Linked DNA regions of Homo sapiens. The protein of the gene in region 2 interacts with the protein of the main gene of each other region in a biochemical or structural test. Each region holds a gene or a part of one and is shown on either strand. Other genes may lie near its edges. The genes, in order: PEX5 and DDO.

Region 1 (15,945 bases), on a different chromosome or scaffold from region 2:
TAAGCTGCAAAATCTGGGACATGCAAATAAAAAGTCCGTTTTTGGAGAGTAGTTACCATCATAAAATAATACACCAGAACGAAAACAAGATGCAAAACAACAGGTGGAGGTCTTTCTAAATGCAGTTAAGAATAAATTCAGATAAAACTGTACAAAATAAAGACATGAGGCCCTTTTTCATTATTATTGTGAAAATGATAAAGAATCAAAAACACTTAAATCTTACCAGCAAAATTCTAAGTCATGATCAGATGCAAATTATTTGTCACAAATGAAAATTAAATAATTACAATGGGGGGTTTAAGAAGAAAGACATATTATAGTAGATTTGAGATAAATGTATAGAAAGTATATTTATATTGAAAACAAGTGTGTTTTTGGACATCTCTGCATAATATAAAAACTAAGAAGGCAGAAAATGACGCTAGTCCAGTGATCAGCAAACTTTTTCTGCGAAGGGCCAGATAATAAATATTTCAGGCTTCGTGGATCTGCTGCAACTACTCACCTCTACTGTTGTAGTGCGAAAGCAGCCAGACATAAGTAAACAAATGAGCACGGCTGTCTTCCAATAACATTTTATTTATGGACACTAAAATTTGAATTTTATATAATTTTCACTTGTCACAAAGTATTACTCTTTTGATTTTCTCCAACCATTTAAAAATGTTAAAACCATCCTCAGCTAGTGGATCACTAAAAACATAAAGATTTATCCCACAAGCCAGTGTGCTGGCCCTTGCCCTAGACTATTACAGTTCAATAAAATAAATCCTTCTGCATTCAACCTCAACTATTGTTCATCATTAATACGTGTTTTAAGCCACTCTACAGAAAACAGAGATTACTGTCATCTATAATGCAGTTTCCTAATAAAAGTAATTCCTGCCTCTCAGAGCCATTGAGAACATCAAATGGGAATCTTCACCAACGCCTTACCAAAAAGCTTAAGATACTATCTGTAAATAGCTATTATCCTCACTGCTCTAGATACTTCCTTAAGATATGATGGCCTGTATATGACAGCCAGAAGTGATGCGAATGCTCTTCAGGTGTCTTCATTAGATAATACAACAACTCAATGCCACCATCTTGCAACCACAGGATTCTCTAAGTTTCCTCTCATCCATATTATCTACCCTCCTTGAAGTCTCATCAATTGCTGATCAAAGAGGAATTTTCCAAAATTAGAATATTTGCATAGATGATGGAAAAAGAGTACTCTGGGGGATCCCTCAACAACCCACAGAACACAGGATAAGCTTGGCTTCACTGTTACATCCTGAAAAGCCAAACCCAAGTCATTAATTTTATCTGATACACGGTCTGGTCTGCTCCAAAATCTCATAGGATCAAACTGCAGAAATGATCACTACAAAGAGTTTGTCCCATCACATACTTCTCTTTTATCATAATAGTATATTAATATCTGCCTGAGCTGCAATGTAAATTGTCTCTGAAAATATAAGGGCTATCAATAAACAAACAGTGCATTCAAAGAGATCCATGAATTTATGTAACAATCAAGAGTCAAGTCCTTTGTTTTTAAAAAGTTCTATTGACATGGAATTCAATATTAGCTTAAAGCCAGATACTGTCTAATTGCTTACTACATCACTTTTTGAGGAACATTAATGCAAGTATTTCTAGTCCTAATTTTGCAATATCCCAAAGTATCAATGATATCAAGTAGGGCTCAAGAATCTACAAACATACTTTTAAAGTTTTTAATTAAAAAATGTATTCTGGATATGACACCAAAAGCTCATATCCCAAAAATCATTGCAAAGACTAATGTCAAGAAACTTTCTCCCTATGTTTTCTTCTAGGCATTTTACGGTTTTGGGTACTGCATTTGGGTCTTTAAGCCATTTTGGATTAAGTTTTGTACATAGTGTGAGGTAACGGTTCAGTTTCACTCTTTTGCACATGGATATGCAGTTTCTCCAATACCATTTATCGAAAAGACTATCCTTTCCACATTTCTATTCTTGGAACCTGATCAAATGTGATTTTTTTTCTAAAAAAAAATTTGCTTTCTAATTTGTCACATTGTTCTATGTGTCTGAAAAAAAAAAATGTATTCTGGCCAGCATGTCATAAATACGAGAGTAATAAATGATAAAAGAAAATGCTGCTCATACAAAACTAGTATTATGTCTATATGTATGAAAAGCATGGACATTTTTACATAAATGTACAACTTTCCATTTATAAGTTGATGGGGCCTATGTGACTTATCAAATTGTTAATACAAAATAATAACAAAAGTGTTATCTATATTTCCTTCAGTTCTTCCTTATCAAAATTATATACAATGAACTCATAGTCTAGTGAAATACATGGCAAGGTCCCAGCTGTCTTTTCCCTTATATCACACAGGATAGTTAGAAAAATCCAGATCAGACTGGAATAATAAGCAAAATCATATTTTTCCTAATACTGTTCTTCACTGGCTCTCAAACTCTAGCCTTTTTCTGAACTGCATCTTCCCATCTTTGCATAGCTCCCTTATTACATCAAGATCCATCTCCAGCACCCTGGTTTGCATCTCAGGCCCTGGTTCCAGCCCCACAATACTTTCCCAACCAGATCTGAACTGAGAAAAAGACATCACTACTCACATCCCCAGTTCCTGTTTTGCCTTTTTTCAAAACCAAGTGATTCTTTCCCCTCTTCATGTTTCAACTCAGGAGCTCAGTTATTAAACACATCCCCAAATATCCTACAACCCACAGGTAGATTTGTTTTTCAGTAAGACCCCAGAAGTAACATATGCTTCTAAGTCAACAGCACATGCTATAGGCAAAATGCAATCATCTTTCATACTACTAAGAAATTTCCCTAATATTTAAGTTATCTAATATAAATTCTTTGAAAACCCTAAATTAGGGCAAGTGGCTACTACCTATAAAAGATAAGAACTTAAAATGAATATGTGAGTTTAAAAAGTAAACAGATATTAAGATGTGGAGGCAAAGGGATAGTCTGTCCACTAACACTCCCCACCAAAGGAGTCAGCAGTCTTCTCAAAAAGCTCCCAATCTGACCTCCAAGCAGAGCTACTTCCTCTGTGCTTTTAATGCAGCAAGCATGTGCAAACCTCCTTCACAGGTGTTATGTACTGGACTGTCGTTATTGACAAAGATAGTCTCATTAACATCTATATCCCAAGAATAAAGTTTATACTCAATCACTGAAGAGGAAGGGCAAGGGAATTATTCAGACTTCTTTTCGTGGAAAGGGACTCAAGAAAATACTTAAAAGCACCCTTCAAATTCAGGATTAAAGGAAAGACGTTAAAAAGAAGGAAGTTCTGGAACCTGAAAAACTAAGAGTTTTTACCTCACCTTATCATAGGTAGCTGACGTAAGGTCATCATAGTCAGAAAGCCAGGGGTGGGCCTCAGCATCCCGTTTTGCCATCTCCTCCAACTCTGCCTGCAACTTGTCCCAGAAATCGACATCAGACTGTAAGGAAGGGAAAGCAGATAGAAAAAGGAGATCCATCATGACCACCCCACCCCACACTCAGCTCTGCTGGGATTCTCTAAGGCAGCAGTTCTTGAATTTCAATATGTTTAAGAATCATCTGAATAAGTTTTTTAAAATGCAAATGGCCAGATGCTATCCCCAGATACTGATTTAGTAGTCTGGGGTGATGGCCAGAAATGTAATGTAGTGCAGTGCAGTGCAGTGCAGTGCAGTGCAGTGCAGTGCATAGTTTAGTTTAGTTTTTTGTTTGAGACAGAGTTTCACTCTCGTTGCCCAGGCTAGAGTGCAATGGCGTGATCTCATCTCGTTGCAACCTCCACCTCCCAGTTTCAAACATTTCTCCTGCCTCAGCCTCCCAAGTAGCTGGGATTACAGGCATGCGCCAACACACCACGCTAATTTTGTATTTTTAGTAGAGACATGGGGTTTCTCCATGTTGTTCAGACTGGTCTCGAACTCCTAACCTCAGGTGATCCACCCACCTCGGGCTCCCAAAGTGCTGAGATTACAGGCATGAGCCACCATGCCTGGCCCAGAAATCTGCATTTTTCAACAGCACCCACCCCATCCCCAAGCAACTCTGACACAGATGATCCAGGTCCACTATGAAATACAATTTGCATCATCTTTGATGTTCATACACCCACTCACTCCAAGGAGTGTTTTCTTTTGGGGTGTCTGCTCCTGCACTATCTGCTCTCACCTCTATAGCTGACTTGGCTCGTTCAAACTCCATATCAAGGGCAGATGTGTTTACTGGTCTTGTGAACTGGTCAACCCAGGCATCTGATGTACCCTGCGACAAAAAAGGATGGTCAGTACCACTACCACCAACTTTCTATCCATCAGACGCACACTAAATACCCACTAACCACCACCAACCTGGGTACTTCTGAGAAAATCATTCTCAGAATCTCTTTCCCACCCACTTGGGACCTGGATGCTATCAAGACAAGCTGGTCTTATCCTTCCCCATCTGGGACCACTGACCACTGAACCCATGGCCTGGGGCATCAGCTGGCTCTGAAGTGGGACTGGAAAGTGACAATGTCCTACCTGCTGCTGTATAAACTCTGCTGCCCACTGTTCTGCCTGAGCTCGGCCCGACCCTGCACCGGACTCCAGGGACACCTGCCCTTCGCCAATCTGCCGCACGAATTTCAGGAACTGGGGCACAGAGACACACACAGGCCACTTGGGAAAGGACTTCCAGGTGTGCACTCTCAACCATGCCCAAGAGGACCCTGTACTCACCCCTCCCCTGACCATCTCTAGCTGCAGACAAGATATGCTAAAGACCCTAAAAGAGGTAGAGAGCAAAAAGAAAGGGATTTCTGGCTCTAAAGACTTGCAAAGGCATCAGAAAAAAGAGTTAGTAGGCAAGGAGATGAGGGAATGAACACTAGAAGGAAGAGGCAGGATCTTAAGTCTCTGTTCTATAGACAGGAACGAAGAGACCTAAGATCTCTTCTCCTTCTCTTTAAACTAAACTGGGGTAAGAAAAGCAAGATTCTTGCCTTCCAAAACCAGCTCTGCTGGGCAAAGCAGCAGAGGGATGTGGCTCACCTCAGAATTAGCCAATTTGGGGTCATCCACTTTGGCCACAAAGTCACTGGCCGTGTGCTGCAGATCCTCCTCAGGATGATATTCATCATACCTGGAACGGGTAAGAACTAATTTTACACATTAGTCTGCCATCACCCTCCCCATGCTACTCCCCACTCCTAGCCCATGACAATGACAGTTCCTGTGAGGGAACTCCATTCTCCTGTTGAGAACCTACAAACTCCAATTTGCATTATAGAAGGACATTTGGGCAGGAGTGTGAAAGTACTAGCTACATCCTTCTAGCTCTCCCTTTCCCAAACATATCTTTGCATACAGATGGGATAGTAGCAGGCTCAAAATTAAGAAGGGAACAAGGTAAAATTATGAACTTTAAGATGAAGTTATGAACGTCATATAGGATAGTTAGGATTCTTGAAAAATATATATATATTTACCTATATACATATATTTTAAAAGTCTGAAAACTCCCTTCCTCCCAAATATAGCTGATATGTATATATACGTGTATGTGTGTATGTATATACATGTGTATGTGTATGTGTGTATACATGTATGTCTATGTGTGTGTATACATGTGTACGCATGTATCTACATGTTTACATATGTATACGTGTGTATATACATGTATGTGCACATGTATGTGTATGTATGCGTGTGTACATATGTGTATGTGTGTATATATGTGTGTGCGTGTGTGTGTGTGCACGCACACATGCATGCGCTTTTGGTTTTTTAAAGACAAGGTCTTACTGTGTTCCTCGGGCTAGACTTGACCTCCTGGGCCCAAGCAATCCTCCCACCTCAGCTTCCTGAGTACAGGCACACAACCACTGTGTCCTTGACTACATTTCAACCATAAATTCACAGGAGTAATAACCCAAGGGGAAATCTTAAAGAATAAAGTAAGCCCTCTCCCTCTCCCTCTCCCTCTCCCTACGGTCTCTCTCCCCCTCTCTTTCCACGGTCTCCCTCTGATGCCGAGCCGAAGCTGGACTGTACTGCTGCCATCTCGGCTCCCTGCAACCTCCCTGCCTGATTCTCCTGCTTCAGCCTGCCGAGTGCCTGCAATTGCAGGCACGCGCCGCCATGCCTGACTGGTTTTCGTATTTTTTTGGTGGAGACGGGGTTTCGCTGTGTTGGCCGGGCTGGTCTCCAGCTCCTAACCGCGAGTGATCCGCCAGCCTCGGCCTCCCGAGGTGCCGGGATTGCAGACGGAGTCTCGTTCACTCAGTGCTCAATGGTGCCCAGGCTGGAGTGCAGTGGCGTGATCTCGGCTCGCTACAACCTCCACCTCCCAGCCGCCTGCCTTGGCCTCCCAAAGTGCCGAGATTGCAGCCTCTGCCTGGCCGCCACCCCATCTGGGAAGTGAGGAGCGTCTCTGCCTGGCCGCCCATCGTCTGGGATGTGAGGAGCCCCTCTGCCTGGCTGCCCAGTCTGGAAAGTGAGGAGCGTCTCTGCCCGGCCGCCATCCCATCTAGGAAGTGAGGAGCGCCTCTTCCCAGCCGCCATCCCATCGAGGAAGTGAGGAGCGTCTCTGCCCGACCACCCATCGTCTGAGATGTGAGGAGCGCCTCTGCCCCGCCGCCCCGTCTGGGATGTGAGGAGCGCCTCTGCCTGGCCGCGACCCCGTCTGGGAGGTGAGGAGCGTCTCTGCCCGGCCGCCCCGTCTGAGAAGTGAGGAGACCCTCTGCCCGGCAGCCGCCCCGTCTGGGAAGTGAGGAGCGTCTCCGCCCGGCAGCCACCCCGTCCGGGAGGGAGGTGGGGGTCAGCCCCCCGCCCGGCCAGCCGCCCCGTCCGGGAGGGAGGTGCGGGTCAGCCCCCCGCCTGGCCAGCCGCCCCGTCCGGGAGGGAGGCGGGGGGTCAGCCCCCCGCCCGGCCAGCCGCCCCGTCCAGGAGGGAGGTGGGGGTCAGCCCCCCGCCCGGCCAGCCGCCCCGTCCGGGAGGGAGGTGGGGGTCAGCCCCCTGCCCGGCCAGCCGCCCCGTCCGGGAGGGAGGTGGGGGTCAGCCCCCCGCCCGGCCAGCCGCCCCGTCCAGAAGGTGAGGGGCGCCTCTGCCCGGCCGCCCCTACTGGGAAGTGAGGAGCCCCTCTGCCTGGCCACCACCCCGTCTGGGAGGTGTACCCAATAGCTCATTGAGAACGGGCCATGATGACAATGGCGGTTTTGTGGAATAGAAAAGGGGGAAAGGTGGGGAAAAGATTGAGAAATCCGATGGTTGCTGTGTCTGTGTAGAAAGAAGTAGACATGGGAGACTTTTCATTTTGTTCTGTACTAAGAAAAATTCTTCTGCCTTGGGATCCTGTTGATCTATGACCTTACCCCCAACCCTGTGCTCTCTGAAACATGTGCTGTGTTCACTCAGGGTTAAATGGATTAAGGGCGGTGCAAGATGTGCTTTGTTAAACAGATGCTTGAAGGCAGCATGCTCTTTAAGAGTCATCACCACTCCCTAATCTCAAGTACCCAGGGACACAAACACTGCGGAAGGCCGCAGGGTCCTCTGCCTAGGAAAACCAGAGACCTTTGTTCACTTGCTTATGTGCTGACCTTCCCTCCACTATTGTCCTATGACCCTGCCAAATCCCCCTCTGCAAGAAACACCCAAGAATGATAAAAAAAAAAAAAAAAAAGAATAAAGTAAGTTGGTTCGAGAACGTGGATGGAGGAGGCTGGGAAAACTGTCCATACTCCTTTCACGGGATTCGGAAAGAGGTATCTGAACTCACCAGCGATCGGTGGCTGTTCCCTCAGGTTCTCCCAGCCACAGCTTCTCCTCTGATTGCTCCAAATATTCCTCAGCCCAGCGGGCAGGGGACACAGACAAGGGGTCTGCAAGGAGCAGAGAAGTGGGGAAATCACACAGGTTCATTCAGTGTGGGATCAAGGAAAGGGAAAGAGATGCCCATATTCAACTGACCCTCTTAGCCACACCAAAGCAGACAAAACTCTGCTGACTCCCTCAGAAACCCCTGGTCAAAAGAATATAGTACTAAATTTTCAACATCCTCAATATCCAACCCATTCTCAAGGAGCCTGGGGCAGAAATTTACTGAGAGTTGGGAACGGGAGATCAAATAAGGAATCTCAGGAAAGGATTAAGAACCAAACTCTTTTTCTTGAAGTGCAAGATATTTCAATAAGAAATAGGAAGCGGAAGGGCTTTCACTTTCCTCAGAAGTACAGCAGGGAGCCAGTAAGGAGTGAAGGGAGCACAGAAGGGCTCCTGTTCCTTAACCAAGGCACTGGTCTGTTCTCCCTCTACCCAGAGTTCACACAATCCCGGCCAAAGGAGCCTTATTTCATTGTAATTTGCCTACCAAGAGAATCAGAGAAGTGGAATGCTAGGCTAGAATTAAAGACACATAGGTCTGCTCTTCCCTATGGATGTTTGGTGGGTTTTTTCATTTTTTAATTGAAATGTAATATACAAATATGAAACCATATAATGTCTACCAAACTTAAGTGTACAGCTAAATTAACTTCCACATTTGATACACTCACATAACCACCACCCGGATCAAGATACAGAACGTTTACAGTTCCCTCACAGGCTCCCTCAGTCTCCCAGCCCCCAGAAGTAAACACTATTCTGACTTTTCTCACTTTTGATTATCTTTGAGTAGCTATGTTTTTTCAGTCTAATTTTAGAAACTGTCTCAGAAGCTCTAGTGACAAAGGGGACTGCTGCAACATCAGAATTAACCTATCAAGGCAACAAACTCAATGAGGGTGCTGAACTGTTTTTCATCCTCCAGGACTTTGCCCTTTACTATCCTGTGGCCAGAAAAAAAAAACAAGGAGACTGACTGCGGGCACTAAAGAACACAAGGAAACAAAGAGAAGGCACAAGCCTACGGTGTTCTTTCCTTCTGCCCTGTGTCCAGAACTAATCTTACTAGTTAGTCTGCCACCACCTTCCCCTGCTATTCCCCACTCCTGGCCCATGACAAGGACAGTTCCCAAGGGGGAACTCCACTCTCTTGTTGAGAACCTACTAACTCCAATTTGCATTAAAGAGGGACATTTGGGCAGGGGTGTGAAAATATTAGCTGATACTAGCAGTCTTTGTCCCCAGTTTCAAGATCTGACCACCCTTGCTTTTACTACCCCTTCGGTATTAAAGTACAAAAACTTCTACTCCATTTTAACTGAAACTTTGCCTGAATAATGTCAACAAAGTAGTCTCAAAATCTGAGCATGAAATGTCAAAATGTGAAAAACAAAGATCAAGACTCTCAGAATACACCTAATTATAAATAATAAGTAATTACTACTTATTATATTATATATAACATATATAATTACATTATATATAACATATAATTATTACATTATATATAACATATATAATTATTATATTATATATAACATATATAATTATTACATTATATATAACATAATTACATTGTATATGACATATAATTACATTGTATATGACATATATATAATTATTACATTGTATATGACATATATAATTATTACATTGTATATGACATATATAATTATTACATTGTATATGACATATGATTACATTATATATGACATATATAATTATTACATTATATATGACATATATAATTATTACATATGACATATAATTATTACATATGACATATATAATTACATTATATATGACATATATAATTACATTATATATGACATATATAATTACATTATATATGACATATATAATTATTACATTATATATGACATATATTATTACATTATATGACATATATAATTACATTATATGTGACATATATAATTACATTATATGTGACATATATAATTACATTATATGTGACATATATAATTACATTATATGTGACATATATAATTATTACATTATATGTGACATATATAATTATTACATTATATGTGACATATAATTATTACATTATATGTGACATATAATTATTACATTATATGTGACATATATAATTATTACATTATATGTGACATATATAATTATTACATTATATGTGACATATATAATTATTACATTATATGTGACATATATAATTATTACATTATGTGACATATATAATTATTACATTATATGTGACATATATAATTATTACATTATATGTGACATATATAATTATTACATTATATGTGACATATATAATTATTACATTATATGTGACATATATAATTATTACATTATATGTGACATATATAATTATTACATTATATGTGACATATATAATTATTACATTATATGTGACATATATAATTATTACATTATGTGACATATATAATTATTACATTATATGTGACATATATAATTATTACATTATATGTGACATATATAATTATTACATTATATGTGACATATATAATTATTACATTATATATGATGTAATTATTACATTATATATGACACATAATTATTACATTATATATGGCACATATAATTATTACATTATATATGACACATATATGTATGACACATAATTATTACATTATATATGTCATATATAATTAAATTATATATGACATATATAAATTATGACATATATAATTAAATTATATATGACATATAATTAAATTATATATGACATATATAAATTATGACATATATAATTAAATATGACATATAATTAAATTATATATGACATATATAATTATTACATAACATATATTACATTATATATAATATATAATGTAATAAATACATTATATGTAACATATGTAATAAGAAATACATTATATATAACATAATGTAATAAGAAATACGTTATAACATAAGAAATACATTATATATACATTATATATAATGTAAAATGTATATATAATATATATAATATATAATGTATAATGTAATAAGAAATATGGTTGGCAATTTTTTTTGACCATAGATCCATCTGTTAATTTCAAGGACTCTCAAAAATTAAATACAGATTCTGCTCACTAGCTCTTACAGGAAGCATTTCTCTTCCATTTGCCCCAATTAGACTGTTGCCTCAAGTGTGGAGACGGAAAGGAGATGCTTAATACTCAAAGAGACTTTAAGATCTCCTAGTTCCTTAGTTCCATTCTTAGTTGAAATTCTTAGCTCCATTCTGTTGAAAAATAACTACTACCTCCTCAACTCTCCAAACACTTCTAACTCTCAACTAGAGTATTTTGCAAAAGCATATTCTGGCCATAAGTGCTCCTCAAATTCACAGAAAACATTTCAAATTCCTATGAAATGGTCCTCTCAAGGACAAAAAAAAAAAAACAGAAAAAACACAAAGCACCTTTGAATTTTTACAACAGACATGAGGACTTAACAATAGATATGAGGCAGTTTAAGAAAAAAAATCCCAGAGCTGAGAAAAACTATCCTCAAATACCTATAATTTGGTAGTTGGCCAGATTAAATCGCCACAAGACCCAGAATTTCTTGGCATTGGGAACCTACTCCAACAAGAGTCAAATAACCGAAAGAATCAAAAGAGTAACACACTGCCTTCACAATCTTTGAGAAATTCCTACAGAAAATCAGATCCATGTGGATACATCTGAGATCAAGGCAACTAAGGTCTACAGAGGGGATGCACTGCCTGAGGTCATACAGATTAGTAGAGTGAGAATAACCTAGACACCAAATACCCCACTCAAAATGTGCACCTCATATAATTTCTCGTTGTTTACTCATTCCTTCTAGGCACATCTTCCCCAAGCTCAAAAGTCAAAAACTCAGAACTTGCTACTCTTACTCATGAAAGTTTCTGTGTCTGCTAAATAGCAGCACTGTGGAGAAGAATACAAGTTGTAGGGTCAGTCTACCCACATTTAAATCCTAACTCCATCACTTATTCACTGTGCATCTTCAGACTAGTTACTCAACCTTCTTAAGTTTCCATGTCCTTATCTTTAAAGCAGAGATAACAGTAGGGGCTGCGGTGAAAACCAATGAATACAGTAACAAATGTTAGTTATTATCATTAGTCTGCTCATGGCAAACCTATAACAAAAGCAGAAAACATCACAATGAGACTGTTATTCCAAAGCCTCTCCTCCAACATCCAGAAAAGATCTGTTGCCAATTATCTTCTGCTACTGCTATCCATGGCTTTTCCCATGAAAGTGCAGGTTTATCTCTCACGATTATCATATGAACCTCACATACCATGTCAACCGAAGCTGTCTAAATTTAAGAACCCTGAAGATGTGTTTTATCTCTAGATCTGAGCAAACACAAGATGGAGAATTATTTGACCCAGAAGATTTAAGACGGGGGGATTCCATTACAAAATAAGGTAAGCTAAAAAAATGAACTTCATGTGGTGAGAGAATAGTTCTGTATCTTGATCATGATGGTGCTTACACAAATCTACACATTTAATAAAATTGCAAAAAACACACACACACAAATAAGGGCATGTAAAACTGGTGAAACCTAATAAACTCTGAGGATTGAAACAAGGGCAACTTCTTGATTTTTGATCTCTGCATAACTGCTATGTAAAATGTTACCACTGGAGGAGACTGGGTGAAGGGTATACAGAACCTTCCTATACATTTTTTTTTTCAACTTCCAGTGAAACTAAGTACTTCCAAATAAAAAATTTAAATTTAAATAATTGAGCTGCAACATTCTTTTTAAACTTGATTTTGACTCTTAACAGTGGAGATTTTAAAATAAGAACTTAAAAAGTATAACCTTCTTTCATCTCAAAATCTACTTATCTATAAAGCCATAGCTAACCCATACAATTGTATCAACCACAAATGCTGTAATTAAAAATGAAGGATAATAAAAAAAAGTCAGTTACGACAAAATGAACTCCTTTCCTTTAGCTTTTTCTCCCAGATCTCAATTCATTCATTCAATACCAGAGGCCTACTACATGCAAAGCAATATACTGCTGCAATAAGACATTTTTATGAAGGCAGACTTCAAACAGCTCAACTCCCATTCTAAGGTTTGCATGTCTCTGCCTCTGTGAAACAGGCACGATTCCAAAAGAATCTACAAAATACTAGAAGAGCTCTACTAAGAGCATTTAACTGGTGAGACAGATAAAACATGTTTTTCTAAAGTTCTTTTTCATTTCAAGTTAAGGAAGATTTCAATGGCTGCATGCAATTCAGGTAATTACAGCAAAAATTTCATCCATCTCAACGCTCATAGTAGCAATGATTTTTCTGAATTATCAAAAATGACTAATGCCCACATTACAACAGAAGCCTCTCTGTGATAAGAGATAGCACTTAAGTCTAAGGTTTATGTGAAAAACTGAGTTTCTGTCTTGGAGAGGGTCTTTGCTATGGTTCAGATTTTAACTTGCGGCAATTTCACAAAGAATCTCAACGTGAGGGCGCGTGCGGTGGCTCACGCTTGTAATCCCAGCACTTTGGGAGGCTGTGGTGGATTACTTAAGGTCAGGAGTTCAAGACCAGCCTGGCCAACATGGTGAAACCCTGTCTCTACTAAAAATACCAAAATTAGCCGGGCATGGTGGCACACGCCTGTAGTCCCAGCTACTCAGGAGGCTGAAACGGGAGAATCCCTTGAAGCCAGGAGGCAGAGGTTGCAGTGCGTACAGATTGCACCGCTGCACTCCACCCTGGGTGAGAGCAAGACCCTGTCTCAAAAAAAAAAAAAAAAAAAGAATCTCAAGAGCCACACAGACATGAGTTTGAATATCATCTCTATTATTCAATGATTTTGCACAAAGTATTTAACTTTTCCAAATCTCAGTCTCCTCATCTATAAAATGGGGGTGGGATATCCACCTTGTGTTACTGTTACTGTGAAGTTCTAATGAGCTTAAGAAGATAAAGTGATTAGCACTCTTAAAGCCAAGAGCACCTACTGTTCTACCTTAACTCCAACTTATGGGTGGGAAAGAGACACGTGATAAAAGAGACCCACAGATCTTATTAAAGGTGAGTTTTAGTTTTTAGATTTGGGATTTTTCTCTTGTGTGCGGAGAAGCCCATCCTAAACATGGGCCTCCTTCACACACATTTGTCCCTGATCAGATAGGCTTCGGGTAAGAAGAATCAATCCTAAAGGATGCGAGGAGCAATGGATGCTCTCAAGGAAAATTAGACTTGAGACCTTGAAATCTGTAGCAAACGAAGAAAGAACATAAATTAAAATGGTGGGGGTAGAAACCAATTCAGTCCCTTTAATCATCTCAGAAAAATTCAGGAACCATGATGATGTGACTCCCCGAGATCCTGGAACTTGGTAACTTTCTCTATGTGTATCTCTTGTTATTCTTGATATCTTAAACAGGAAAAAGGCTAACTTTTGAGAGCAATCAGGAAGAGGAAAGCTGAAGAGACTGCCCTTCCCACCATGTACCTGATTAGATAGGCTTAGGGCAAGAAGAATCAATCATAAAAGATGCAGGAGCAATGGATGCTTTCAAAGAGGAAAAATTAGGCTGAAACCTTTAAGTCTGTAGCAAAGCAAGAAAGAAGATAAATTGCAGGCCTGACAGTATAGCATCACAGTTAAGGCCACAGGGTCAGGAATCATTCAAATCCAGGATCAAATCCCAACTCTACCACTGACAAAGCTGTGTAACCTTGGGCACACTTCACCTCTAAGCCTCAATTTTCTTATCTTTAAACTAGGTCTAAAAACAGTAACTACCTCTAGGGTTCTCATGGAGAGTAAGTAGATAATGCATTCAAAGCATGTAACACAAGGCCTAGAACGTAACTATTGTTATTAATTTTTATTATCATCATCATGGTATGGTCTTTACCTTCTAAAGCCATACACTTCAGGCACTGGAACTTCACAATAACACTCTGAAGGCCCCAATTCTGTTCCAAATAACTTAAGGCCAGAATCCCAGGTGCTGTAGTGAATACTCTCTTCCTCGGCAACACTGCCATCCATCCAATCTGTAGATCCTCTCCACTAAACCACAGTGATAAAGTAAAAAGGCCAACCAAACTCTTCGTTCTCTCTATCCAAAATCTCTTATCCAGTACAAACCCAGTCCTCTCTTTAATATACATTACATTCCGTTATCACCTAAGGGAAATTGAGTTCAGTACCCTACCCCTCTAGAAATGAGTCATGAGACCAGAAAAATCGTAATCACACTATAACGTGAACAGGGGAAGGGTATAGAATTCTGTCCCATAGAAGCCAATATAGATTTTCCCATAACAAGTTTCACCTGTAACTTCAGAGATGAATTCTTGGGACCAGTCAGTCTCATTATAATCCTGAGTTACATCCACAGCATCTCCAGCTGCAAGAAACTCCTGGGCCCAGTTCTCAGACAAGGCCAAGTCTGCCACACCAGGGGCTTAAAAGAGAGAGAGAGAAAACTAAGAAAGAATACATACATACCATTCCATCATGCCTAAAGAACCCTGAATCCACGTGAAAACACTCTGTTACTTTTGTCTCCTTCTGCATCTCAGGTCCCCAATGCCAGCAGCATCCAATGGAACCCCCTTCCTTGGCCCTGGCTACATGGAAAACGATCTCCCCTCCCACTAGACTCTGGACTCACCTCTCTGGGGAGCCTGGCGGAAGTTTGACTGCTCAATCTGCTGCATCTCAGCCAGGAGGTCATCCATCTTGAAGGTCTGAGGGGCACGGGACACAAGGGGTGCATTCTGGTCCTGCAGGAATTCAGCCACCAACTGCCAGAAGGGAAATGATGAAATGAACCCATAGGCTTGGGAGGCCCCAGCAAGAGGCAGGACCCACTGGAGGGGGATCCCAATGTTAGATACAAGGAAAGGAAAACACAGAAACTGGAGACACATAAAGAGAAACTGTCTTTCCATAGATTTAGAAGGACGAAAAAATACATTTAAAAACAAGCAGGCATTCTCATTCGGTCAGGAAAGCCCAAAAATTGAAATACGGGTGAACTAAGTTTAAAGGTAAAAACACAGTGGGCAAGAGA
Region 2 (15,945 bases):
GACCGCAGGCCCGCAGCCCAGGACGGGGTGGCAGGGTTGACCCAGGCCTTCCTGCCGCAGTCAGGGGTCAGGTCTGAAAACACAGAGATGATGGAACTACGGGGCCTGTCTTCTAGAAGGCGATGCTTTGGAAGCAGGAAGAAGACATTGTTCAGATAACATTTGATTCGGTGTGGAAATGACGGGGGCTGCCCGGAGCTAAAACACTCTCTCTCGGAGTAGTGGGAGCTGGGAGGGTGCGCAGGAGCGGGCCGGGGCGGGGACTGGCGCCTCATCACGGGCCCGCGTGGGGACCTCCAGCCCCCGCAGAGGAGGACGCTGCCCACGAGGCAGGGCGGCACCAGGCCAACTGGGAGACTTATGAGGACTCCTCAGAGGAGGTGACTGTGTGCTGGGGGGAGGCTGGCGTCCCTGCCTCTGCCCCCTTCTACAGTGACACCTCTTCAGGTGCCCTGGGCCTTCATGCCCCCTCCCTGCCCCATCAGAACTCTCCTCATCTCCCCAGGGCCTTATCAACAATTTGGCCCTTAAAGCAAAATGAAAGCAATGAGCCCTCTCTCCCAGGAGGAGTTAAGCATTTGCATTTCACTTCTAGACTTTAGAGCCAATGCTTCAATGAAAGCTTGGGCCCGAGAAAGTTTGTGAAGAAACGCTTCACACCGCCTTCCCTGATTACCCATAAGCTCAAGGCTATCACTAGGACTCAAAACTTACTCTGGCTCATCTGAGCCGCACCTTCTTTCAGCTGGGCACCCAGAGGACCCCTGTCTGGCCCTTCTCCAGCCATGCTTTCTTCTTGAGGCAGTGAGTGTGTGGGGCTCGGGCATGTGCCCAGCCAGAGCCCTCTCCCTTCACTTCCAGCCCGTCTTCTGGGGACCCAGGATCCCCATATTCCCTGTCCTCTTCCAGGACCTGCACTGTCTTCCTCCCGGGGGCAGACTGTGCCACTGTGTGCACCCCGGAGCCCAAGGAGTGGCCAAGGACAACTGTCTTCAGGGAAGATATGGATAGAGCGAGGGTGCTTCCCGGCATGCTCCTGGGCCCCTTTGCTGCCATGTGAAGATGCAGGACTCTTAGGAATCTAGAAATTCTAAATGTCAACTTGGACTTCCAGGTGGTTGTGGTAGAGGTGTGTTCTTTAGCTACACCTCAAATCAGGATTTACATTGCAACAGAGTGAAAATTTCAGGGGACAGAGGAAAAGAGAAAAGACAATTTCTTTCTGCACTAAATTCATAAATTTAAATTGTGGCATTGCAGCAGGTTTGTGTTAAGGGAAAGGTGGTGGAAAATATTCATGAAAAGAAAATGTTTTTCTTCTCCAAATTTGGGGTGTGTGGAATTTTGTTGTGCCCCAAAGTAAAAAAGTGCTTTAAAAAAAAAAAAAGCAAATCAAGTGAACATATCAAAAAGACACAAGAGCAGTTTGAAGGGGCTCCTACTCAGCTAATCTTGGACAATTTGAACATCAAAATGATGGGGGGGATAAATTATAATCCATTGAATAAAATAGGTACCAATGAGTTCATCCTGATATAAATACATATAGGAAAAGGAAAACTTCTTTACAGTAGAAAGCAAACTATATAGATGGAGTTATAAAATGATCACTTGGAAAATATCACAGTAATAAATAGTTCAGGCAAAAATCATCAATGGATGCTAAAACTCGTAGGTGAAAGTACTACTTTCATAGGAACTCGTTTCATGGGAATAGGATATTTACATAGTTTCAGGTATATCACAACAAAATATTTAGTAATTACAAAGAGAAAAAGTAGTAACCTCACAGTAGAGATAACTGGCATTCTAGGTGATGAAAGTTAACAGCCCCAATAAGGGGATAAACTGATATCATCTTCCTCCTGCTATGATGCAATAAGGATTCAACATTACTTCTATGCATTCTCACCCCAACATGCAGGACCTCAATCCGATCCCGAGGAAACATCACACAAACCCCAACTGAGGGACATTCTATTATATGAAACAACTGGTCTGTACTATTCAAGCTTGTAAATGTAATAAAAGACAAAGACAGACTGGAGACTAAAGAGACATGACAACTGAAGACAATGTGTGACTGTAATTGGATCACGGACTGGAAAAAATTATGTGTTGTGTGTATTTATATTTACATGTGGACATTATATGGACAATTGGCAGAATATGAATAAGGTCCATAGATTATAGTGTTGTATCAATATAATGATATTGATTTTATTATACTACTGTGTTTATGTAAGAGGATACCCTTGTTCTGAGAGCAAGTATTTAAATATTTAAACATGGGGCCAGGCACGGTGGCTCATGTCTGTAATCCCAGCACTTTGGGAGGCCGAGACGGGTGGATCACCTGAGGTCAGGAGTTCGAGACCAGCCTGGCCATCATGGTGAAACCCTGTCTCTACTAAAAATACAAAAATTAGCTGGGCGTGGTGGCAGGCACCTGTAATCCCAGCTACTTGAGAGGCTGAAACAGAAGAATCACTTGAACCCGGGAGGTTGCAGTGAGCTGAGATCACGCCACTGCACTTCAGCCTGAGCCACAAGAGGAAAACTGCAACTTACTTTCAAATGGTTCTGAAAGAAAATATGTATAAGGAGTAAAAAGAAAGCGAAAATAATGAAGCAAAATGTTAGGAATCTGTATGAAGAGTTTGTTAGAGTTTCTCTACCTCCCTTAGCTCTGTGTCCATTACCATCCCTAACACATACCCCTGGCCATCCCCACGCAGGAAAGCCCTTAATCAGCCCTTGACCATGTCTCTGAGGGAGAACAACACTCTTAGGTTCTCACTCATCTGCCTCTCCGTGATCTGCTGGAGACCACAGGGCTCCAGCCAGGTTTTCTAGAAAGCTTACTGATCATTAAGACAAAAATCCAAGATGAGAAAGCCACACAATGGACTTGGTGGCAATAATGAAACTTCAGCCCAAACCACTAATAATACCAAAAAAAGTTAAACTCCTTAATGACACCTCACCTTTTATCACAATATTTTGTACATGTTCTTCCATTTTGAGCTCTTTTTGAGTCATAATCTAAAAATGTTATGCATTGTATTGAAAGGAAACTCTGCCATTTTTTGCCATGCCTAATAATTTCCACTTACCTAAATTTTATTTTATTTTATTGCCTTTTTCCACATGTTTTAACTTTTTTTGTTTATTTTATTTTATTTTATTCTGGATTTTATTAAGATAAGTTATATGATGCCTCAATTCCTTATCACTAGCATCAATGCTTCTAATTTTGTATTTCTAGTCATTTTTAGAAGGGGGAAAATTCAACACTACACACTATTGCCACTCAGGAAAGATGGTGATGCTGCTAAAATTTGCTTGTTGGCTGGTGGGCAACTCCATCATGTGATAGCTCAAAATATACGTTTATCAGCTGATGTAGACAAGTCCAAACTTGGCATATGAACAGTGGTTTATGGGCTGGTGAACAAGGCCAGAAAAGGCATGGGTTTTATGAAACTAGAACTTACAGAAGCAAAATGTCCCATATAAATTGCTAAGAGGTAAAAGTGAGAAGAGCACTTGAAAAGCTACAAAACTAGATTACGATGCCACTGACATGTGCCTAGCAGATCTAGGCTTCCTCCTTTCTGCTCCCATTCTAACCTGCATAAGTCTGTACTTTATTTTACCATGTGTGTTACCATCATTGTTAATTAATATGCAAACACATACACACACAGTCATCCACAATAGACCATGAAATTATTTTAAAAAGAAATCATATTTTATCCTTCTTTTTTACCAGCTTCTAGCATAATGCCAGATATATATAAGCGTTCAACAAAAGTTGTGTAATTAATGAATTATATGAATCAATTATCCTATAACCTACATCTGGTACCAGATCACTGTTGCCCTGGCCTACTTCAAGTCACTTTCCCAACATTTACACAATAATTCACATCGTTCCTATTTACCAAAATATACACATATGGGAATTGAAAGGATCAATATTTCACAACTCTCAACATGCCTGCAAGTCCAGACTAAACTAAAGACAGATTTACTGATGTATCTCAAATGAAGATACTCTTGATGTGTTTCCTAACTGGAAGCTAAGTACTAGTTTCCTGAAAGTCCTGAAAAGTAAGCCGAAATGCAAGTTCAAGGTATCACGGGCTGAACTTAATGAGGAAGGAGTGACATAATTTGGATAGGTCCTTAGTTTCAGAGTTCTTATTTAAGACAAAAGGAAATAATGAAATTTTTTTGCTTTACCAAAAATGAGAAAAAATTCAAAAATAATTTATAATAAGCAAAGATTCTCTCGTCCAAAGAATTAGAGTAAATCATATCATTCTGTAGCTGGAAATATATTCTCCAAACTGTTCCATTTTACAGATGAGGAAAACTAAGATACTGTTTCAATAAGAGGGTTTTACCTGGGGCAAGAAGGGTAGGGAATAAGTCAGGCATCGAAGTGCACACCAAAAATAGAAGACAAATTACTAGAAGCATGGTGTGACTTAGTCCTTGTGACATAAACACTGTCTTCAGATTGTTTTACAAAGCCCTAGCCATTTGTGAGTGGCAAGGCAACGCGAAAGAGCTCTGAGGGATGCCAGAGACTTTTCAGTATGTATTTTATGAATAGCTACGAAGTGATTTATGGCTATGACAGATAAGGAAATATCAGGGAGCATTTCAACTGACCTTTTCTCCAACCACGGGAGGTAGGCAGGGCATTCACATTTCAGGGTTGTAAAAGCCTGACCAAACACATACTGGGGGAATTTCTTCAGCTCAGCCTCAGTCATCTTTCGAAATCCCAGAACCACGTCAGCCCAGAATGGCACTTCTTCAGTCGGAGTGCTCTGAAATATCTGCCAACTCAAACGTATTAAGTGAACATTTTTTCCTGAAATTTGTGAAATAACATATTTCTAGTAAACTTCACATGACATTCTCTAGAGCATTTATTTTATTTTATTTTTGAGACAGAGTCTCACTCCATCACCCAGGTGGGAGTGCAGTGGCACAATCATGGCCCACTGCAGCCTCAACTTCTGGGGCTCAGGCAATCCTCCCACCTCAGCCTCCCGGGTAGCTGGGACCACAGGCGCTTGCTACCACACCTGACTAATTTTTAAAATTATTTGTAGAGCCAGCGTCTTACTATGTTGCCCAGGCTGGTCTCAAACTCCTGGACTCAAGTGATCCACCCACCTTGGCCTCCCAAAGTGCTGGGATTACAGGCATGAGCCACTACAGCTGGCCTAGAACATTTTAAAAATTTAGTTTCTATAAACACAAAGAGAAAATGATCTATTTTACTATTCTCTTAGGTTCAGATAACTCAGTAGCTAAATAGCAGATGTTGGTGACTGGGCAAATAAAACATCTTAAAAGTAACATGCTTTTTAAAGATGGAATTTAATACTCCTTTTCTAAAAAGCTCCTGCCTAGATTTGGTTGTTAACAAGAAGGCTGTAATAGTACTACTAATAGCTGCTATGCAAATGTTTAGATTTGTAAATATTGGGTTGTTTTCATCAGTAAATGAATAAATGTTATAATGCCAGGCATGGTGGCTCACACCTATCTATGATCCCAGCACTTTAGGAGGCCGAGGGGAAGTTCGAGACCAGCCTGGGCAACAAGGTGAAACCCTATCTCTACAAAAAATACAAATATTAGCTGGGTGTGGAGGCACAAGCCTGTAGTCCCAGCTATTGGGGAGACTGAAGTGGGAGGATCAACTGAGCCCAGGGAGGTCGAGGCTGCAGTGAACTGAATTGGACCATTGCGCTCCAGCCTAGACGAGTAAGACCCTGCCTCAAAAAAAAAAAAGTTATAAATCATCATTGCTCAAAAATAGCAAGGAAAATAATCTGAGTGCTAAGCATAGTTGCTAATAATTCCCCCATCGGAATATGTATCTCTAGGTAATTGATTCAGAGCAGTCCCCATGAAGACACAAATGTCCTTTACTGCAGGGTTCTGTGCTGGCCCACTCTTGCGCTGGGCTAGCTTGCCCTCTTCCATATCTTCACCATGACCTACAGGCCAGACACTTAGAAGGCTACATTTCCAGTCCTGAGCACTTAGAAGGTTATATCTCCAGTCCATTCTCTCTCTTGAGCTCCAAAAACAGATCCGGACCCATGTTACCTACTCCCCACTAGATAAGTCCACTTAGAAGTCTCATGCATTTACACACACATGCACGCATGCATGCACACACACACATCCACTCTTTTCCCAATCCTACCTAACTCAGAAAATGGTACCCATCCATGCAGGTGCTAATGCCAGAAACCCAAGAATCATCCTTGATTCTCTCTCCCTACTCACCTCTCATACACCATCAACTGACAAGTCCTATCAAATCTCCCCTTAGGCATTTCTCAAGTCCATCTACTCTCTGTTTCTACAGTCCACACCCAATCTATCTCATCATCAACTCTTCCCACAAATCTATTCTCCACACTATAGAAAACATATTTTTGAAATGCAATTATGACCAGTCACTTCACTGTGTAAACTCCCTCAATGGCTTCCCATTTCTCTGGACTTCCTTCAGTCCCTCCCACACACCACAGTCGCCCTAGACTCAGGTCTAGGTGTATGCTGTTTCCTCCACCTGGAATGCTGTCTCCTTCGTCTCCCACCCTGCCCCGCCCCCACTTCACCTCTACAACATCACCAGACTAACTTACACTCTTCCTGATGGTCTCGGATGAAACACCTTGATCTGGATGGCTTCTCATCACTTCCCAGAGCAAGTTTCTTCTCCAGACATATGCTTCCATAGCACCCTAGCCTCTTCCTTTTGGTAACTCATGTCCCAGTGAATTTGGTAACTCATTTGATTTACTGCATTCCCTAGAGACCATAAGCTACATAAGGGCAGGACTGTGTCTTCCTTAAAAATTAACTCAACACATATTTGTTAAGCATATGCCAAGTGGTATTACTAAATTGCTCACTGCTATATCCCTAATACCTAAGAAAGAACCTGATACTGAAGAATGCTGAATATGTTGTTTTGAAGGAATAAATAGATGAGTAAGGCTATATACTTACGCCAAAGATGCACAGGGGATTTTAATTCTGGACATGGCTGTTTCCAAAAATTACTTAGAGCCAAAATTTGTGAATTAGACGGACTCATGTTGGATTTGGACAAAGAGTGTGACCGTAAATCAAAGAAAATGTTTTTTCTACTTGGCTCATCAACTGGCTCCAGATTTAGTTATACAGAAGAATCAATCCATAGATTGATAGGAAAGCAAAACTGCTACTTTGGGGAGGGGCTTTGGGAAATTACTGACATCAGCATCATCTTGGTGTTTGTGATGGTGAGGAAAAACAAGAAGAGAAAAAGGGTAGAAATTCACCCAATGCAAGTGTGTACACTAGACTAGCAAAAAACCCCAGTGGGCAGCCTGACATCAAAAGAGGAGATAAGACACATTTTTTCAGAAGGCCGCAGAAAGACTGTGTTATCACACAGGATAACACATGTATGTTACAAGTGTAACATGCACCAATGACATGTATGTTACATCATATGATGACACTGAGAAGTAAATTGAAAGTGATAGAATATTAAGTGATCTCAGTTTAAGAAGATATTAAAAGATGTCATGTTTTAAGTGCTCGTCTTACTAATAGAAATGTCAAATAGCATTTATTCTCAAATTTTCATTTAATTATGCATGCCTACTGAAATTATACATTAAAAATGAAATAGAAGTGTGCTAACAGTTTCAGAAATATTTTTTTCCACATGGCACTTCAAAAGGCAAGTTTAGTGACCTACAAAATTTCCTTCTTTGGAATATCTCATTCTCCAAGGACACCGAATAAATAAGAAGTCCCTCTCCCTTAGGTCTCTGCAGCCATCCCAACATCATACCTGTTTGCTTTCCATCGGCTGTACCATCCCCACATCACCCAAATCCAGCATTTACCTCCTGCGTGTTTTTTTAACCAAATTTGCAAATCACTGCATGGTCTCTGAGGAAACCCAAAATCAATCGTATTTGTGATGAGAAACTCTGATTGTTGTTTATTGTTAAAAAGTCTAATACCATAACTTGTCTTTCTTCAGTTCTTTGGGGTAAAGCCTATAATGCTCTTTCCGAATCCTCCTGCATCTAAGTCAGCACTCTGCTCACAACAGCTACTCAGTAAATATTTTATGTTGAACTCTAATGCCTGTTAAGATCATGCTACACTCTAAAATAACTTCAAATTTCTTCACTTACCCTGATACCAAATGAACACCAGCATCTCCAGCTTCTGCAGAATTGGCAATTGCAAAGAGGTGATTAAAGGTTTCTCTGAACCACTGCTTCTGCGTGTGAATGGGTGTATCTGTAATCATGGAGAAAAGCAAAGTGGAACAGAAAGGAAAATGATGATAATGACAGTGCTTCAAATAAGCTCCTTCCTAGAAACTTGGAAAAAAAATAAGGAGGCAAAAATAAAATAAGGAGGCAGGGAGGAACATTAATATAAAGTGCCACATTGTGGCAGAGGATCTGTCAGCAACAAGAGATTTGCATGTTGACACATGCTGTCCAAATCTGCTCATATGATTAATCAATGGAGGGAAAACAGGCCAATAAGGGCAAAACCCGGCATGCGAGCTAGTTGGAAGGTGGTTTTTGGTACTAGGTATATTCCAGAGGTCCTTGGCAGGTCTATAACCAACCTGAGCAGAGCTTAGTTCATGGCTGTGGGATCCAGCTGGCCACACAGTTGAGACAATAGGACCAAGGACAGAGGGCCTCTTTCTTGGGGGCTGAAAACATAGTGGATGACATGGGCAGGTCTGTGGGGCCCAGGCCAACCGGGACAGAGAACAGACTGCACCTCGATGGGGAGTTCCAGGGGCTTGCCTCCTGGTACAAGGAAACAAGGCTTGCATGCTGGAGGCGAGCCCCCTGCAGGCCAGACTTCCCAGCAGGGGCTGCCATTACCTTCCACACCATGGAATCAGGTGCCAGCCAGAGTAGCACTCCTGAAGCCAGCAGGGGCGTGCAGGGACCATACCATCCCCCAGGCACCTCTGCCAGAGCACATGGGGTTGGACCCAGACACAACTTTTGGAAGAGTGCCAGGCCTGTTGGGGAGGAAACAAGAGGCAGCGTTTAAGCCTCAAAATAAGTGTCCAGTGTAGGCACAGAGACGGCAGGAATGACCCAAAATCACAGACAAATCCAGCTGTGGTTGAAGTATGTGGCCGTCTGATTCCTGTAGAAGGATCATGAGAGACTGGCTAGGGTTAGGCCAGGGACCAGGGAACAATAAGCCTCAGGGGCTGCTATGAGGGAAGCCACAGAGGAGATGAGGGAACTGAGGCAGAGAGGATGCTAAGTTGGTTCCACTTGGAGAGGTGTCCCTGAAATTCAAGGAACAGATAGAAAGATCTTTGGAGACATCCTGCTTCCCAGGTGAAGCCCCCAGGTCACTGAAGTCATGTCAGTAGCGGGATTTTCAGACAATTCGCTTGTTATAGAGCCAATAAATATTTCTTTAGTAGCGAATCTGTACTGCCATCTTTAAACATGTGCCCATGTGAAATTAACACTATATTCCAAAATTTCACAGTGGGGATGCTGCTTTAGAAATAAGGAATAAATAAATAATAAGCTGCAGAGAGAACTAAATTTGGCCTCAAATAGACTTTACCCAACAATCTATGCCACTGTGTGAGGTTGTATTAAAATGCAACTCCCTGTTCTCACCCCAAACCTTAAAAACAAAATAGTGGCTGAGATTCACATGCTGCAGAAGTCATCCCAAAGAACAGACAATTCCCATCCAGCAGTGGGTCTAGGAAGCCTGATGACCTAATTCATGTTCAAGTCCTGGTAAAACAGAACTATAGCTGGAATGGTGAGAACAATAGCAAATGCTGATATAGCACTTACTATGTGCCAGGTACTGTTCTAAATGCTTTACATGTATCAACTCATTTAATCCCCACAACAACCCTATGGGACAGGCATGGTCTCCATATGGTATTGACATTTATGAGCACAGGAGATAGTTATGACTGGGGCTCATCTGAATAGTGTCTAGGAAAGAAACCCAAAGAGAAGACCAAAGTCTTTATCTAGCAGCATCACAGAGAGAAAAACCCTGGTCCAGGAGAACCAGCCACCTGGCCAAAGAGACAGTTCTGGCCTCGATGGCCCTATGAGCCCTCAGATGAGTGACTGTCTTTGAGGGATGATTCCATGACTAGCTGGCAGCCTTCTGAACACTCACTCAGGCCTGGTACAGGCAAGGGAGAGCCTGGAAAATGGTCCCAAGAACTCTCGTCACAAGAAAAGCACTTAGTGTAAGCTGGTGTATTAGTCTGTTCTCACACTGCTAATAAAGACATACCCGAGACAGGGTAATTTATAAAGGAAAGAAGTTTAATTGACTCACGGTTCAGCATGACTGGGAGACCTCAGGAAACTTACGATCGTGGTGGAAAGGGAAGCAAACAAGTCCTTCTTCACATGGTGGCAGGAAGAGAAGAATGAGAGCTGAGCTCAGCAAAGTGGGGAAAGCCCCTTATAAAACCATCAGATCTCCTGAGAAATCACTCACTATCATGAGAACAGCAGCATGGGGTAACTGTCTCCATGATTCAACTACCTCCCACCAGGTTCCTCCCACGACACGTAGGGATTATGGGAACTACAATGCAAGATGTGATTTGGGTGGGGATACAGCCAAACTATATCAGCTGGCATCTGGTGGATACACCAGGTGCCTGTGTTTGTTTCCTGGGAGGCAGTTCCCAGGAGCTGACCAGCCAAGCTCCTGGACCTGCAATGCCAAGGTCGCTGCTATTACCACCCTAATAAAAGATATGTCTATTCTTTCTTAGGGGTCTTTGGACTGGAAAACACAAAGCACCAGCAAAGGCAGGGATGCCGTGCTGAAAAAAGGAGTGTTAAGGAAACACATGCAAACTGGATGCTAGGACCCCAGCCTCTTCCCCTGTCACCTTCTCAAATGCCAGCTGGCATCCGGGCCTTCATCTTCCCCAGGCAGGACATGGAACCCTCTTCCCTGGGAAACAGGACCCGCCCAAGAAGAAAAACTTAAACTGAATGACATCACAGATGTCCCCAAATAAATGGCCCTGCCCTCTTACTCCAGTGAGCTCACTGGCAACAAGCCCTGTGCAAACACTCAGAAATTCCCATCTGCTGTTCAGGGTCCACTCATAAACATCAGCAGACAGGTAAAGAATACCACACGGCCAAGAAAAACCTCTATCATGAAAAATGAGAAAATCAAAAAACAAAAACAAAAACCTCCCACAATTTGGAGATGACAGATACTCAGATACTATTCAGGGAGAAAGTTTTTAAAAACTGTTATTAGTATCTTCATAAAGATAAGAGAGGACATTGCAATCTTCTAACACAAATAAGATGTTATAACAAATGAAAATTCGGAGAACAAAAAAGAGCTTTGGAATATTAGAAATGTTATAGTAGAAATAAAAAATTCAATAGCAAGGTAAAAGATAAAACTGAGTAAGTCTCCCAGAAAGTAAAATAGAGAGAGATAAATAGGAGGGGGACAAAGCTAAAAGAATTGGAGGACCAGTCTGGGAGGTCCAGCATATTAACTTTTCCAGAAAGAGGGAAAAGGACTTCAGAAGGGAGGACGGTTTAAACTATGGGCATATATAACTTTGATAAAAAATAAAAAATAAAATTAAAGAGGAAAAATAGAGTGGAAATGAGGAAATGGGGACAGTGAGTATAAACTTCATTACTGCAGCGTGATTTTGGTTTCTATTTAATGCTATTTTCTTCCTCCCCCATTTCAAGTGGAAAATACAGAAAGGAAAGGACGCATGGACATGTTCAAAAATCAATGCATTGGTGGGGCATGCCAGCAGATTACAGGTGTGAGCCACCATGCCCCACCAGTGGGAGGATTGGGAGGCCAGGAGTTTGAGACCAGCCTGGTCAACATGGCAAAACCTTGTCTCTACTAAAAATACAAAAATTAGCCGGGCGTGGTGGCTCATGCCTGTAGTCCCAGCTACTCAGGAGGCTGAGGCATGAGAATCTCTTGAACCCCAGAGGTGAAGGTTACAGTGAGTCAGTGAGCCAGGATCGTGCCACTGCACTCCAGCCTGGGTGACAGGGCAAGACTCTGTCTTAAAAAAAAAAAAAAATCCATGCATCTTCAGGTCTTAATACATATTAACTAATTATGATTGACTGATTACAAACATATTGATAATTGTTCTTATACAGGCTTAGAAGTTAGGATAATTTTAGTTCCCTTACAAGTAATTTCTGACTTGATAGTCATTACTGTTATCAGTGGAAAGACAGAGCCGCCAATCATGTAGTTGTCAGTACTGTTCATCCCATGCTTCTGCTATCCATCTTCCGGGAACTATAGAATCACACTTTCTGGCCTCCTGCTGAGGGTGGAGACATGTGGCCTGCTCTGCCAATGAGCCATCATCAGAAGCGTTGAAAGTCGCTTCCTGTCCAGAGTGTTTAATCACAGAGGCGAGAACCTCAGAGGTCCCCTCCCCTCCGCCCCTGGGCACATGCGCTGATGACAATCAGGATGACAGCTGCTCCATCGGCTTAGGTCCCTGATGACAAGCTGGCCCCTTGCTGATGCTCAATCCACATGTAGTGTGAGCAAGAACAAACTTTTGCCTTTTAAGCTGCTAAGATTTGGATGTTGTTTCTGTCCTGCAGCATAACTGAGGCTGTCCTAAGAGATGAACCAACAGGATGTTAAAACCGCACATTATGGCCAAGCATGGCGGCTGTAATCCTAGCACTTTGGGAGGCCAAGGGGGATGAATCGCTTGAGGTCAGGAGTTGAAGACCAGCCTGGGCAACAAGACAAGACCTTGTCTCTACAAAAATACAAAAACTAGCCAGGCATGATGGTGTGCACCTGTAGTCCCAGGTACACGAAAGGCTGAGATGGGAGGATCACTTGAGCCTGGGAGGTTGAGGCTGCAGTGAGCCAAGATTGCACCACTCCACTTTAGCCTGGGTGACAGAGTGAGACCCTGTCTCAAAAAAAGAGAAAAAGAGGAAAGGAAAAAGAAAAAAACCTGCATATTACACTTACACCTATAGCCAGCTGTCTTTTGTCAATAGAATTCCACTAACATCATTCTATCTGACATCTATTGTATCTGATAGAGGAGCTGAAATCTCTCACCTGGATAAGTGTGAGGAATAAGCATTCCGGCTGCCACATCACTGGTGGTATCTGGAGTAAACTTGTCTGAAATGATGGTAACGGAGCATCGGGGCACCAGTTTGGAGATGCACACAGCCGTGGAGAGCCCCACCACACCTGCCCCGACAACTGCAATCCGTGCTGTGTCCATGAGCCTGTGAGGAGGGAAATGGGAGCTATACCCCTTGTTTTAAGGATTTTCCCATCCAGACAAAGTTTGGTCTTGACAGTTTTTTCCTTAGGTCTTCAGCCACTCAGAATAAGACTTAGCCTATTGGTGTTTCTTGTGAGATAAAGAGGATAACCCCATAAGCTCACTTTCCATTAAATATTGGTGTATAAGCAACAAGATCTCCATGGGCTTTTAGAGAGTAACACAAAACTGGCTTGGATTTGCCTTTAGAACACCTAGCCAGTAAGTAGGTCTGCATTTGGAGGAGTTTTCTACTCATTCTTCACCCTTCCCTTTTTTTTCCCCCTGAAAGGGGGTCTTGCTCTGTTGCCCAGCCTGGAGTACAGCGACGAGATCTCGGCTCACTGCAACCTCCGCCTCCCAGGTTCAAGCAATTCTCCTGCCTTAGCCTCCTGAGTAACTGGGATTACAGGTGCCCACCACCACGCCAGGTTAATTTTTGTATTTTTAGTAGAGATAGGGTTTCAGCATGTTGGCTAGGCTGGTCTCGAACTCCTGACCTTGTGATCCGCCGGCCCCAGCCTCCCAAAGTGCTGGGATTACAGGCGTGAGCCACCATGCCCGGCTTCATCCCCCTTTCCTAAACCATTTTCCCTATGGGCACAACCTAGGGAAGGTTGACAGAAAACCACAGAGCTGTAGTCTTTGCTCCCAGAACTACCTGAGGAGCAGTGGTGAGGGGCATGACCCATGAGCAACTCAAAACTCAACTCTGTCTACAAAGTTGTTTCTAATAATAAGGACATTACAGAAAGTTTCAGCAGCTGAACTCAGTCTCCTCTGCCATCTGCCACTGTCACCGGCCCCCTGTCTGTCCTGGACAGGTTCTGTAACCTGAGGAGCAGTCCGTGGTCTCCTAGCCTCCACTCCCTCATCTGTAACACAGAACAGATGGATTACTTGCTCCTTTGGGTGGTAAATAAGAGAGACCCAGTGAGGCGGTCTCATAAAGGGGGCTCCTTGGGAGAGTCTGAATGGAAATGCAGGGGACAGACATCCCGGAGCCCGGGCCAGGTGTCCTGAGGCTGGCACCCTCTGTCCCACCCCTCACCCACGGAGCCTTGCTCCACTGTCAGCATCCCCGCCTGCCTTTGCTTCCCTGTTTTTGGCTTTCCCCATCTGTTCCTGCTCTGACTCTTTCTGTATGGCTCAGGTTTAAACTCCAGAGAGAGAAAATGCAGTTGTACCAGTTGGTCATTGCATCCCCTGTTGGACAAAATTCTAGCACCAGGCCAACTTGCTGGGCTAAACCAGCCTCTGAATGTGCCCTTGGCATAGTTGCCCTTCTCTGTCCAAAGCACAGTAATCAGGGTACTGGGCCACATGGTACAAACCATGGCCACCCACACACAGAGGTTCACCTTTCCTCTGGAAGGCTGGGCAGCTTCCTCAGCAAGGGCTGTTGGCAGGAAAAACGTGGGCTTGGTTGTTAGTGGCCTCTGCTTTCTCTTCCAGTTCTGAAGATTCTCGCACTATGAGACTTTAAAGCCCTCCAATGAAGTTTAGTGTGATATTCCTATTCCTCGAGCAGTCTATGCATTTCTGTGCTAATTTGATACGTTAATTTGATTGCTGTACAGTGGGCTGGTCAGCTGAGAGAGAGTGGGCCTGCCAGGGCTGAGGGAAGAGAAGGGAACGGGCCCAGGCCAGAGCAGTCTGGTGGGGGCCAGCTTGAGTAGAGCTGTCCTGCAGCCACCAGTGACCTTATTGACTTCGCTGTTTCACATCAGCCTCCCATGTCCAGCAACTCTCTCAAAACAGCTCTAATAAACTAAGTTGAAAGGGCAAGCAATCTGTGGCTAAGAATAACCAGCTGCCAGGGAGGAGGAGTGAGCGAGCAATGTGGTGTGTCCTGGCACAGTGGCCTGTCCATCACTGTCCCCTGACCCTATTCAGACACACTCCCAAACTCCCAGAGCATGGACGGAACGACCCCTCAGCTGAAAGCAAGAATTCAAGTACCTGTCTCTGAAAAAGCAGTCTTGGAAGCCACCAAAATCTCTGGCACCAAACCTTGTTTCCCAGTGCCTGGCTGGTCTCATGCCCTGAGAGACAGAGAGAAAGCGAAACTGATTCCCATTGGTGACTTGATTCAGGACATTCCCCCTGGTCTTCCTTTCCATTGGCCTGCATGGCTGTCTCTGTCACCCATTGCCCCGGAGAAAGGAGCAAGTGACCTCAACCTGTCATCTCCATGGCGCTGTCTCTGCCAAGCCCTTCCCTTTCTGGCCCACGAGCCCTCTGTCTGGCCGCCAGCCTGGGCTTTCTCCAGCTGATTTGTAGGTATGGTGAATAATGGGTGAGCCTGTCCAACTTCCAACCTCGTTTGGCTGCCCACAGTTAGCCGGGTGCCTGGCTCTGCTGGGTCAGCTGGTGGGGGAAGCAGGAAGGAGGGGGTGAGGGCTGAGTAATGTTGTTGATTGATTGGAGCTGGAAACACTATTCAGGAGATAATCTAGGATAGAACCACATGATTCTTTAGCCCAGCAGTCCCCAGCCTTTTAGGCACCAGGGGCTGGTTTCATGGAAGA

Evidence for each region.
Region 1: the proteins of DDO (region 2) and PEX5 form a complex in vitro, tested with the Homo sapiens proteins (2 studies listed by BioGRID, with this or other methods).

The regions. Positions count from the first base shown.
Region 1 is NC_000012.12:7,190,957-7,206,901, reverse strand, and holds part of PEX5 (peroxisomal biogenesis factor 5), read right to left. Parts: intron 15,677-15,945; coding exon 15,544-15,676; intron 15,334-15,543; coding exon 15,202-15,333; intron 7,892-15,201; coding exon 7,789-7,891; intron 5,152-7,788; coding exon 5,061-5,151; intron 4,662-5,060; coding exon 4,551-4,661; intron 4,291-4,550; coding exon 4,198-4,290; intron 3,471-4,197; coding exon 3,351-3,470; intron 1-3,350.
Region 2 is NC_000006.12:110,400,091-110,416,035, forward strand, and holds the start of DDO (D-aspartate oxidase), read right to left. Parts: upstream 15,486-15,945; 5' UTR 15,377-15,485; intron 13,377-15,376; 5' UTR 13,373-13,376; coding exon 13,201-13,372; intron 12,739-13,200; exon of another isoform or gene 12,294-12,738; intron 10,488-12,293; exon of another isoform or gene 10,430-10,487; coding exon of another isoform or gene 10,420-10,429; intron 8,353-10,419; coding exon 8,244-8,352; intron 4,861-8,243; coding exon 4,684-4,860; intron 1-4,683. UniProt on the Homo sapiens protein: Selectively catalyzes the oxidative deamination of acidic amino acids. Suppresses the level of D-aspartate in the brain, an amino acid that can act as an agonist for glutamate receptors. Protects the organism from the toxicity of D-amino acids.